Linked DNA regions of Homo sapiens: region 1 is linked to region 2. The links come from fine-mapping of genetic effects on gene expression. A gene starts in region 2. The other region holds a variant in brackets. All regions are shown on one strand. Distances are between the middles of the regions. Region 1 overlaps LINC02535 (long intergenic non-protein coding RNA 2535). Region 2 holds the start of NT5E (5'-nucleotidase ecto).

Region 1 (5,382 bases), 58 kb after region 2:
GGAACAGGAAAAGTGATTTTGCCAAAAGTGGATCTGGGATGAAAGCCAGGCATTTGGGTTCAGAGTGTATGCACCAAACTTCTTTACTTTCTTGCTTCAATTGTAGTAATAAGAGCACTTAACAACTCTTCAGCTGTGCTCTCTGTGGAAGATATTATCTCCCTATTATAGACAAGGACATTGAGTCTTGGAAAAATTAACCAACCAATTAGCTCAAGATCAGACAACACAGATGAAGTAGTCTGGAATTTAGCAGAGGTCTGTGTAATTTCAAAGTCTGTGCTTTGAGTGTTTTGATGCTTAATGTTCAAGGTCAAAGGGTTTACCAAATGGGTTTACAGAAAGAAGTTTCACCTTTCTGTCCCAAGAATTGGCCTTAAAGCACAGTGCCATGGCCAGGAGACCTGGCTAACAGAGCACCTGCAGTCCCAGCGGGCAGCTTCTGTGCATTCCTGTTCAGAGGGTAGGCCAGTCTCAAAGAGATGCTGATGAGTATGGTGTTCCAGGAGGACTGGACTGCCTTGCCACTATTAAGGTCAAGTGCTAAATAAACATCTTGTGAGTTTTACACCTGAGAAATACAAATAAAATCCTAAACCCTCCAACTGACTGAATCCACCCCCTCTTAGCCAAGGAGACCCCAGAGAAGCCTTAAAAACTGAGTTTTGGCCCATTATGGGGGAGGTTGGATATGCTTCATTATACTTTCTCCCTCAGTACCTGCCATTAAACCTTCTTTCCTAAGGATTTAACAGAAACCAGCCATTTCAAAAGACTCAGTGGACTCCCCTCCATTTTTGCAGTTTTGACCCAACAATCAACCAGCATGTTTTCCTGATAAGAGACCACTAACCATGAACTGGTTTTGGCCAGTTTGTGGAGTCTATGTACTGGATGCCTCTGTGTCCTCCATTTCACCTTATAATGTGTATAGCCTAATTTTAATGCATTTAAATGTTAAGTATCCACCAAAAAGTGAACCTCGGATGTATGTGACATGCATGTTAGTTTACTATGCATGCATACATGCATGCCCTCTTTCATGAATATTTATTGCTCCTCCTGTAATCTGATGAATATGTATGCTTAGCCAACCCATTTGGCCTAAATTCCTGTGTCACCATTTCCTCTCTGCTTCTACTGGAGGTTATGCTTCCCAGGCTGTGGATTGTTACCCTGGAGGCTGCAACCTTTTATAAGAAATAAAGTTCTCCTGTCCAAATGTGGAAACCTCATAATTCTTTGGTTGACACAACTCAAGAATATTTCCTCATGGACTTGTGGCAACATTGGTTGACACGCTTCTTCATGTTCCTCATCTTCTCGAAATGTAATCGTCAAAAAAGATAAGGCCTCATCTCTCAGTTTCCTGGGAGAAAATGGGCCTAATTTCAACTCTCCCCGACTTGAAATGGCAAACCCCTACCTCTAGTTATAATGATACAATAAACTTAGGGATTTTTTCTTGAAAACATGAGTGTAATGGATTATATCCACTTTGCTCTATGAAAGATTTCTTTTCACCATTGCAATCTCTCCAGTGAATTGTTCGTGATACGCGTTACGTTCTGGTTTAATGTTTATTCAATAGTAAAATTGTTTTCTTTCTTGATTATGTTTGTGGAGAGGTTTTCTGGGCTGGGAGGGGGTTTTGCTTTTAATTATATTTCCTCAACACTACCTTAGGAAGCTTCTTCTGGGAGATTCCAAAAAGGCAAAGCTGCTTCTGGGAGAGGTCTAGGGAGCAGGGGAGGGGAAGGTACCAGACTCACCAGGAGGGCTTCTAGGATTGATAGATTTGATTAAGGCATTAATTAATTCCAAAAATATTTATTGAGTACTTACTATGTGCCTGGCCCTGTGCTAGAGTCAAAATGTCAGAGAGGTACTTTTCCTAATTATAGCCCGAAGAGAGCATAGTAATTGGAAACACACCTGCCTCCTGGGTGCTTAGGAACAGGAATTGGCTGTGGATTTCCTGCCTGGGAACCTGGGGGCTGTACAAAGAGATAAAGAATTGAAGAACCTAAGATCTCTAAAGGAGGTTTAAGTGTGTCTTGGGATTGGACCTTTAGGGAGGCTTTTAAAGAGAACTGCTTTTTCTAGACTGACATTCTTAGATAGCACAGCTCCTGTGTTGATCATCTTTGCACAGCCAGGCTGTAGCCTAGTGTCTAAGATGTAGGAGGCAGCCTATAAATGGTTGTTGATGAAATAAGTGAAAGAAAGAAAACTTTTCCCTCTGGCAAGGAAAGACTCAGATAAAATTCCCCATGACTTCTAAAGGTGCTCCTGGGCATTACTTTTCATTGTTTTTCCTGGGGATGCTGATTCCTCAGAATGTCGTTGTATTATAGTACATTCCTTAAGGGATATGGTTTTCATTTTCCTGAATGTTGCTCCTTTCTCTCATTTTACCAGCAACTTGTTACTCCCTTTCACTTTCAGACTCTTTTCTCTCTTTCCCTTCTCCTTCAGCAACTTCTCTCCCCATTGAAGTTAGAAGTAAAATGTAACAATTAATCAACCATTTTAATAGGGACTATTTTCCCTTTGGGATATAAGATAATGTCTCTTTATCACACAGGTCATCCTTCACAATGTTTTCTTGCTTTTCAGATGTGCCAGTTAACTGTATTAGTCTATTCTCACATTGCTATGAAGAAATACCATAGACTGGGTAATCTGTAAAGGAAAGAGGTTTGATTGACTCACAGTTCTGCATTGCTGGATAGGCCCCAGGAAACTTACGATCATGGCGGAAGGCAAAGGAGAAACAGGCACCTTCTTCACAGGGCATCAGGATGGAGTGAGTGCAAGCAGGGAAAATGCCAGATGCTTATAAAACCATCAGATCTCATGATAATTCACTCACTATCAGGAGAACAGCATGGGGGAAACCTCCCCTATGATCCAATCACCTCCACGTGGTCCCGCCATTGACATGTGGGGATTATGGGGATTACAATTCATGGTGAGATTTGGGTAGGGACACAGAACAAAACCATATCATTAACCATGGAGGTACATGTATTAGTCTGCCAGGACTGCCATAACAAAGTACTGCAGACTGAATGGCTTAAACAACAGAATTTT[A/G]CTTTCTGAGTTCTGGAGGTTGGAAGCCCATTATCAAGAGTCCAGCAGGGTTGGTTTCCTCTGAGGCTTTTCTTCTTGGCTTGCAGATGGCCACCTTCTCCCTGTTTTCATACAACCTTCCCACTGTATCGCTCTGTGTCCTAATTTTCTCTTTTTATAAGGTCACCAGTCATATTGGATTAGGGCCCACTTTAATCGACTCATTTTAACTTAATTAGCTCTTTAGAACCCTGTCTCCAAACACAGTCACATTCTGCGGTATTGGAGGTTAGAATTTCAACATATGAATTTTAGGGCAACACAATTCAGCCCCTATCAGTATATCTTACAATTTTTTTTTTCTTTTTAAAAATCACTGGTATTTGCTAAGTGGCTGATCACTAGAATTACCTGGAGATATTTAAAAATACAGATTCCTGGCCCCTCCTTAGTAGACTCTCATTTAGTGGGTCTGAAATGGGGCTGGAAATCTTTACGTTTAAAAAATATTTTAAGACCTGGGTATGGTAGTTCACACCAATAGTCCCAGTGATTTGGGAGACTGAGATGGGAGGGTCACTTGATCCCAGGGGTTGGAGGCTGCAGTGAGCTATGATCACACCACTATACTCCAACCTGGGCAACAGAGTAAGACCATGACTCAAAATATAAAACCTTAGATAATTGAGATAATTAGTGAGGTTTGAGAACGACCCTTATAAGGAACTCCTGGCATTATTTATTACCATACTAGGGAAGATCAAATTGAATGAAACAATGGTAGTTGCTCAGAGGAACCTCAGAAAGATTACACCTAGTAAGCACCACTTTGAAACTTTACTGTTTCCTTTTATTTGGTTCCATGTGGTTTTCTGTCTTCTTCATTGCTTTTCATTTCTGCATGTATATATAAGCTCTTAAAGCATCCAACACACTTTGCTCCACATTTATAATTTAATTAGCTGTGTCTATTGGACTTAGGTTCCAAATAATTTCTGACACACATGCTCCTATCTGAAATACAAATATTTATCAGGCATTGAATGTTGTATGAGTGCAGCTGTCATGTTTGATGATGATGACATAAAGAAGAGTGCAATAAGGTCTCTCCCAAGGAGTTCAGGGACTTTCTTTGTTAGATTGTCAAAAGCATTAGCTCTTCATGCTACCATATTATTATTTGAAAGAAAATCTGATTGTTGGAAATTTGTAGTGGGATTGTTGTTCCCCTTTGCTCCATGGAAATTTATCATATTTTTTGGTTGTTTTGACTGTTATGACTGATTTACTAGTGATAACTGAACTCGGGGTCAGTTACCTCAGTTCTATGGCTCTAATGCCTGCTTTGTGGCTGCCATCTTGAGAGACTGGCATAAGTTCCCCAGCATTCTTTCCCTTAGCACAACTTAACCATGACTTAGCACATTCCAAAGGTTTAGCTAAGCATAACTGCCCCTAGATAAGTTTTAATACTTGATTGTAAACAACTTCATCAGTGTGCTTGCAGAATTACAATGAAAGTATGTTTCATTTCAATTGAAGTAAACCCAATGGCAATTGTCAAAATGGGAGATAATATTGCTGTGTGTCCTAAGAAGAGATAATTTAGGCATTTGAACATGAAATGTAATCTCTTGTTTTTTTTTAAAAAGAGATTATGCAAAGGTAAGAATGGGGATCTTTCTTTTTCTAGAAAGTCATTGATCTATGATCCCTTGAGGGTAATATAAAAAAAGTTAATTATAGATTTTAAAATTTGCTTCAGATCTGTTAGAATAAGAAAGTGAGGGAGGCAGAAACAAAGTGGAATGGATTCAGTCATTGAGAGGAGAGGCAGAGTTCAGTTTGCACTGTAAGCTTCAAAGTGTTAGCATAAGCTGTCTACTGCTCTTTGGCTTGTTATTCATTTACTTTTTCTTCCAGTCATTTCTTAAATCATTTATCAAACATTTATGGAGAATTTATCTAGAGTTATAGAGATAAATACAAAGCTATATCTATTCTTAGTCGCAGGGGCTCAAAGTCCTGGGAGAGATGGACACATCAACCAATAGTAATAGCAGGTGTGATGGGTGTATATGGAGATATGCCCAGGGTTACGAAGAGCCTGGAAAATAGATGACCAACCAGCAGGCTGGGTTAGGGTGTGGTTTCAGAGAGGAAGCACTGGACTAAGACTTGAAGAATGCATTGGAAGAGCAAATCAGGCAGAAAAGAGGACAGAGTCATTTTGCTCAGAAGAAACAGCATGTGCAAATGTGCCACAACCATTCAAAGCAAGTTGCTGCTTAAGTCTTGCCCACAACT
Region 2 (5,382 bases):
CTTCCATGCTGTCTTCCTCGTGCCTCAGGGGACAACAGTCCTTCCACTGAGACAGCTACACTAACTGGAGAGTTTTGCCATCCTCTTCCCAGTTTTCTGCCTAGTAGTGGTTCCAGGGGGTCTCCAGGATTGCCCTGGGTCCTCTACAGCAATCAGGATTACTCCAGTAGGTCTAGAAAGTGTACACCTCCTTGGAAGTTCCTGCTCGAGGGGACTCCTGTGTTTTAGCTGGATTCTAGGAAATTCCTCTTTGTCCTCCATATGCTTCAGTCCTTTTATGTGGCTCCTTTGAACTAGGTCCAGTCTCCAGGAAACTGGAGATGCCCCTCCACAACTGTTTTCCACCCTGATTTGAATCCCCAGTGTCCTAGGAATCAATATGCGGTGAGTGGTTACAGTGGAGGAACGTTTATACCACAACAGCAATAAATTCTCTGAGGGTTAGTATAATATAAACAATTGACAGTGAAACATCTGTGCAATACTGGAGTACAGCAGAGCTTTAGCACATGCTTTAGCACTACAGAACTGGGATTTTATGCACGTCAAATCATGTTTGACACACCCCCAAACTGCACAGAGTAAGTCCTGAGGACACAGCCATCTAACCTTGCCATGTGATCCGCTCCCAATCTTTACCCCCTGCCAACATTACGTAAGTAGCCTATTTTTCCTCAGAACCCAATTCAATTTTCTTGAGCAAAATTTGAAAGAAAGTAATTTCATCCAACAAAAAGGATTCTGAACAAACACAGAAGAGATAGGCTGTAACTTACAGCAGTTTACTCAGGCCTCACCTAGATGTCCTGTCATAAACATTTGATACCATGATTAACACCAGGAGCTCAACTAGACTTACAAGAGGGAAATATTATTAGGGAAAACTAGGAATTCTTCATTCTTATTTTTCCACTAAAAAGGGTTCACACAATTGTGGAGAAAAGAGTGTCACAAAAAGTAAAGTTTACAAAGTCGTGGTTTATATGCAAAATAAAACAAACACATGTAAGTTTATTCTACCCTTCTGGGAGGAAGTGGAGACACAGGGTAGCAACAACTCAATTCTACAAATATTTATTTTGTCATTACTGAGTGCAAAGTATCAGGGAAGTGTAGCTGTGGAATACCAATGCTTAAGAGACCACAGAGTTCTTGAAACCCACGATTCTTCTTCAAATCCAGATGTGTGTGAGCCCCACCTCATCAACTCTGAAGGCTGAAGGATCAGCTGGAATTTCTGCTGCAGGGTGTCCCTGATAAGCTCAAAAGCATCAGAACGGAGGGAGCTTTCTCCCCTTCTCTCATCTCATTAAAATGAGCTTTCTTGTTGTGGGGGGTTGGGGAGGGACCTTTAAAACCAAACAATGGTGCCCTCTTATCATCTTTTCCTGTCCTCCTTTCTCCAAGTTTCCAGAGGGGAAAATAAAACCAAACAAACCCCTCAGCATTGTGCTCTCCTGACCTCTAAGCTCTTCTCATATAAAGTGTACTGTTAGCCTTCTGTATCCCAGCCTAATCACACTTCCCTTTCCCTTCCACACTTGTGGACTTCACAGATTTCTCTGGACGTTTCTCTGGAGATTTCTCAGTTCTTCCTCTTCCAAAGCTCTTTTTTCTTCTCCCAAGTTTCTCCACAGTCTTGCTGAATCCCTTTACTCAAGGCTTTTACACAGGGTTAAATTTGGGTGGTGGTTTTATTTTTTTTTTAACCACCATATATACATCTTGGTTGTACTTATTTATTACTGTGCAACCACCTCTGCTCCCTTTCTAGAATTTAGTGCAATAGAAAAGGCATTACCTTTAACCTAACATTTGGGACTTTGAACTAAACTTTTGCACATGTTTTAAGAGCCCATTATCTCTTAAGTTGGACTCTTCCTAAATCTCTGCCGCCAAACCTACTTTATTGAAATCCTTTGAAACCCAAGTCTTTCCACATTTTGGCTCTCTCTGAAGTTTCTTTCTTTCTTTCTCTTTCTTTCTTTCTTTCCTTTTCTTAACCCTATATTATAGTGTCTGGTAATAACAACATATATAGACACCACACTATGTGTCTGGTAATAATATAGAGACCACACTATGTGCACTATGTACAATTATAATCCTTATTTTTATACAGGATAGAACTGAGGCAAGAAAGAGTAAATAACTTGCTCAAGGTCACATAGAAGGTAATTGAACAGAGAATCTACCCCAAAGCTGTGAGCTTAATTACTCTCAAGCTCCGGGGTCAAAGAGATCTGGTGTCCATTCTTATCACGTCTCCCTTTTTGCGGGGATGGTGCCTGTTAATTTATTCAGCTTCTTCGACGCGGTTTCCCTTTCAATAAGATTGAGATAAAGCATTTTTCGAAAGATCTAGATTGAGATAAAGCATTCTTTGAAAGATCTAGCAGTAAATGAGAGCTGCGTGAGGGATCCGATTCAGTCCCTAGCTCTGGATAACTGTCAGTGCTTCTACGCACCCCACCTTAAGCCCCTCGCAGGCAGGACTGGGTCCTGCTCCTCTAAATACTCCCATCTCATAGTGGGGGCGCAATAACGTCCGTTTAAGACGAATCGTCCAAGGGACTTCTATGCATCCAGCTGGCACACTGGCCGGAGTCTCACTTTATCCCCACATCTCTCCGCGCCCTGGACCTAGGCTTGCCACACTCTGCCATCCGCTGCTTTTCCAGCCCGGCTCCTCTCTCAGTCCGGGACTACTATCCCGGGCGCGGGCTCGGGTCTTACCATGGCATCGTAGCGCAGGGCGTTCATGAAGTGCGCCACCTCGGCGCCCTTGTACACGGTGAACCAGATAGTGCCCTGGTACTGGTCGCCGGCGTCCAGCAGCAGCACGTTGGGTTCGGCGCGGCGGATCTGCTGAACCTTGGTGAAGAGCCGAGCCACGCCACCCATGCAGCGGCTGGCGTTGACGCACTTGCTGGAGTCCTCGCTGGTCTGCTCCAGCCGGCTGTGCACGTCGTTGGTGTGCAAAATCGTAAGCTCCCAGGCGCCAGCCGCAGGCCACAGCACCGCGCCCAGGGCGAGGAGTAGCGTCGCGGGCGCCCGCGCGGCTCGGGGACACATAGCTGTGGCGCGTGAACTGGGTGCGAAAGCGGGCGAGCCGGGCGAGTGCCGGCGAGTAGGGGCGAGCAGCTAGGGCCGGGGCTCGGTGCCCCGGCTGGAGGGGCGGGGCCCGGGTCAAGGCCGGGGCGGGTCCTTCTTCAGCCTGGAGGCCGGCTTGGCGGCCAGGCGCAAGTTCGCGACGTCACCCGATCCGACCCTGGTACCCGGAGCGGCCCTGGCGCGGCTGTCGGCTGGCACCAGCTCCCTGCAGGAAGAGTGGAGAGGTTGTTCCCGGCGGGGAGCGGGTACCGGCCGCATCCCGGCCGGACCAGGGAGCCTGGGCGCCGGCAGTTCGGCTGCTGGTGCGCCGCTCTTTCGGGGGCGCGAGGAAGGAATTGGAGGGGTCCGCCCCGCGCCTGGGTCCTCTCTGAGTCTCGCCTCATTCGAGGCACGGGTTTTTCTACAAAAGGAATGTATGGTTTGTGGTTGCGCTAGCTCATCACTTCAAAGAACCAAAGAAGGAAAAGAGAGGGGGCGGGAAGAAAGATGAGCGAGCTGAGGGGCAGAGAGGAGGAGTAAAGAGAGGCCGGGCAGAGGAGCTCCTTGCAGTTTCGGGCTGTGAGAGCCGAAGCTCACTGAGATGTGACGCTTCCTGTTGGGTTGAGAACGCACGAAGTCTACGATGCTTAGACAAAAAAATCTCAGAAACTAAGAAATCATTCGAATCCAGTTCCTTGTTTATTCACAATTAAAACCTTAGTGATAAAACAGAGGCGACGCGCGGACAGCTCCTGGAAGCAGAAACACGATTGGGGTAAAATCCGGCAGCTATCAGGACGGGAAGGGATGCTGCCCTTCTTTGCTTTTCTGGTCTTATTTTATTTTATTTTATTTTTATTTTGTCGCGTGTGCTTTCGGTGTCGCAGTGAAGTCATAGCCAAATACAATGTTAGGAAGATTTTCCTCTATGTTTTCTCCTAAGAGTTTTATAATTTAAACTCTTAGACCTTTAATCCATTTTGAGTTAATTTTCATATGTGGTATGAGTCCACATTTACTCTTTTTCATGTGGATATCCAGTTTTCTTAGTACCATTTGTTGAAAAGACATTCTGTGCCCGTTTTTAAGACATTGACCTGAGGTTCGGAGATTGTAAATCATTTGCCAAGAAAGGCCATGCAGTTTGGGAGCAGCAGTGCCTGGGGCTACAGAAGACCCTTGCTTCTGGGACACCCTCTAATGTCATGCTTTGCAAGGTTTTGCTCTGTCCCTCTTTGAGCACCTGCTAGAAGCAGGTAAAAGAACTGGTAGTTTTGCTGTTTTAACTTAAAAAAAGAATGATTTTAGACTTACAGAAAAGTTGCAAAGGTAATAAAGGGAGTTCCCACATACCCATCACCCATATTGCCTTATGTTAACAGCTTATATAACCAATGAAACTAAAAACTTAACAGTGATACGAAACTATTAACTGTGTTACTGATTTTATTTTAATTTCACCAACTGTTCCACTAATGTCCGTTTTCTATTCCAGGACCCAATTCAGGATACCATATTGCAGTTAGTTTTCCTGTGTTCTTAGCCTCCTCTAATCTGTGACAGTTTCTCAGTCAGTTGTCTTCAAAAACCTTGACACTTTTGAACAGTACTGGTTTCTGTATACTATCCCTCAGTTTGGGTTTGTCTGATGTTTTCTCATGATTGGACTGAAGCTGTGGATGTTTAGGAAGAATGCTACAGAGATTATGTGCCTTTCTCATTGCCTGGTATCTGTGGGTACACGGTATCAACATGACCTATCACTGATCACTGGGGAACTGATCATTTGTTGTTTCTTGTCTTTTAAACCTAAGCCACTGCAATAGTTTCTGAAATTCCTGTTCTGGGGATGCTACCAGATTTCTGCTTCAATATCATTTCCATGCCATTTGTTTTCATATACATCTAAAATGGCCTTTGATTGTTTATTGCACCAAGTTCAAGCTTCGCAAACTGGCATTTTGAAGTCTCATTTTATCCAGCCAACTTTACCTTCCACTGTTCCTCACACATTCCCTTTGTCCTCATTTCTTCTCTCCAAACCACCATTTCCAGTCTGTCCTTAGGCCAAGGCCCGGGGTTCCTTTAATTTCTTGTTCAAGTCAACATGAAGTTCCTTTGACTTCTTCACACAGCAGTGAGTTTTTCTCTTTTCTAAATTTCTGGTCAGTTCCTACAATCTCACTTTAATGTGGTTTTACTTTTTTTCTCCAGGTGTTTAATGTGTGTTTTTGGTCTTCTCCCCAAGCAATGGAAACAGAGTTGCTGCTTCAGTGGTAGTAGTACTTG

What was found. PIP is the estimated chance that this variant, and not a neighbour inherited with it, causes the effect. A credible set is the group of variants that fine-mapping cannot tell apart.
Region 1: its variant is the best candidate, but not a certain one, in a credible set for the expression of NT5E in whole blood (TOPMed, PIP 0.55).

Annotation. Positions count from the first base shown.
Region 1 is chr6:85,390,089-85,395,470 of GRCh38, reverse strand. The region is part of intron 3 of LINC02535 (long intergenic non-protein coding RNA 2535); the gene reads left to right. Among named protein-coding and RNA genes, the nearest start is that of LINC02535, 12 kb to the left of the region's middle. The variant A/G (reference allele first, on the strand shown) is at 3,097.
Region 2 is chr6:85,447,833-85,453,214 of GRCh38, reverse strand. It overlaps NT5E (5'-nucleotidase ecto), which reads right to left and starts at 3,132. Exons shown (of 9, transcript NM_002526.4): 1 at 2,737-3,132. The coding sequence starts at 3,075. RefSeq lists a silencer at 3,070-3,339.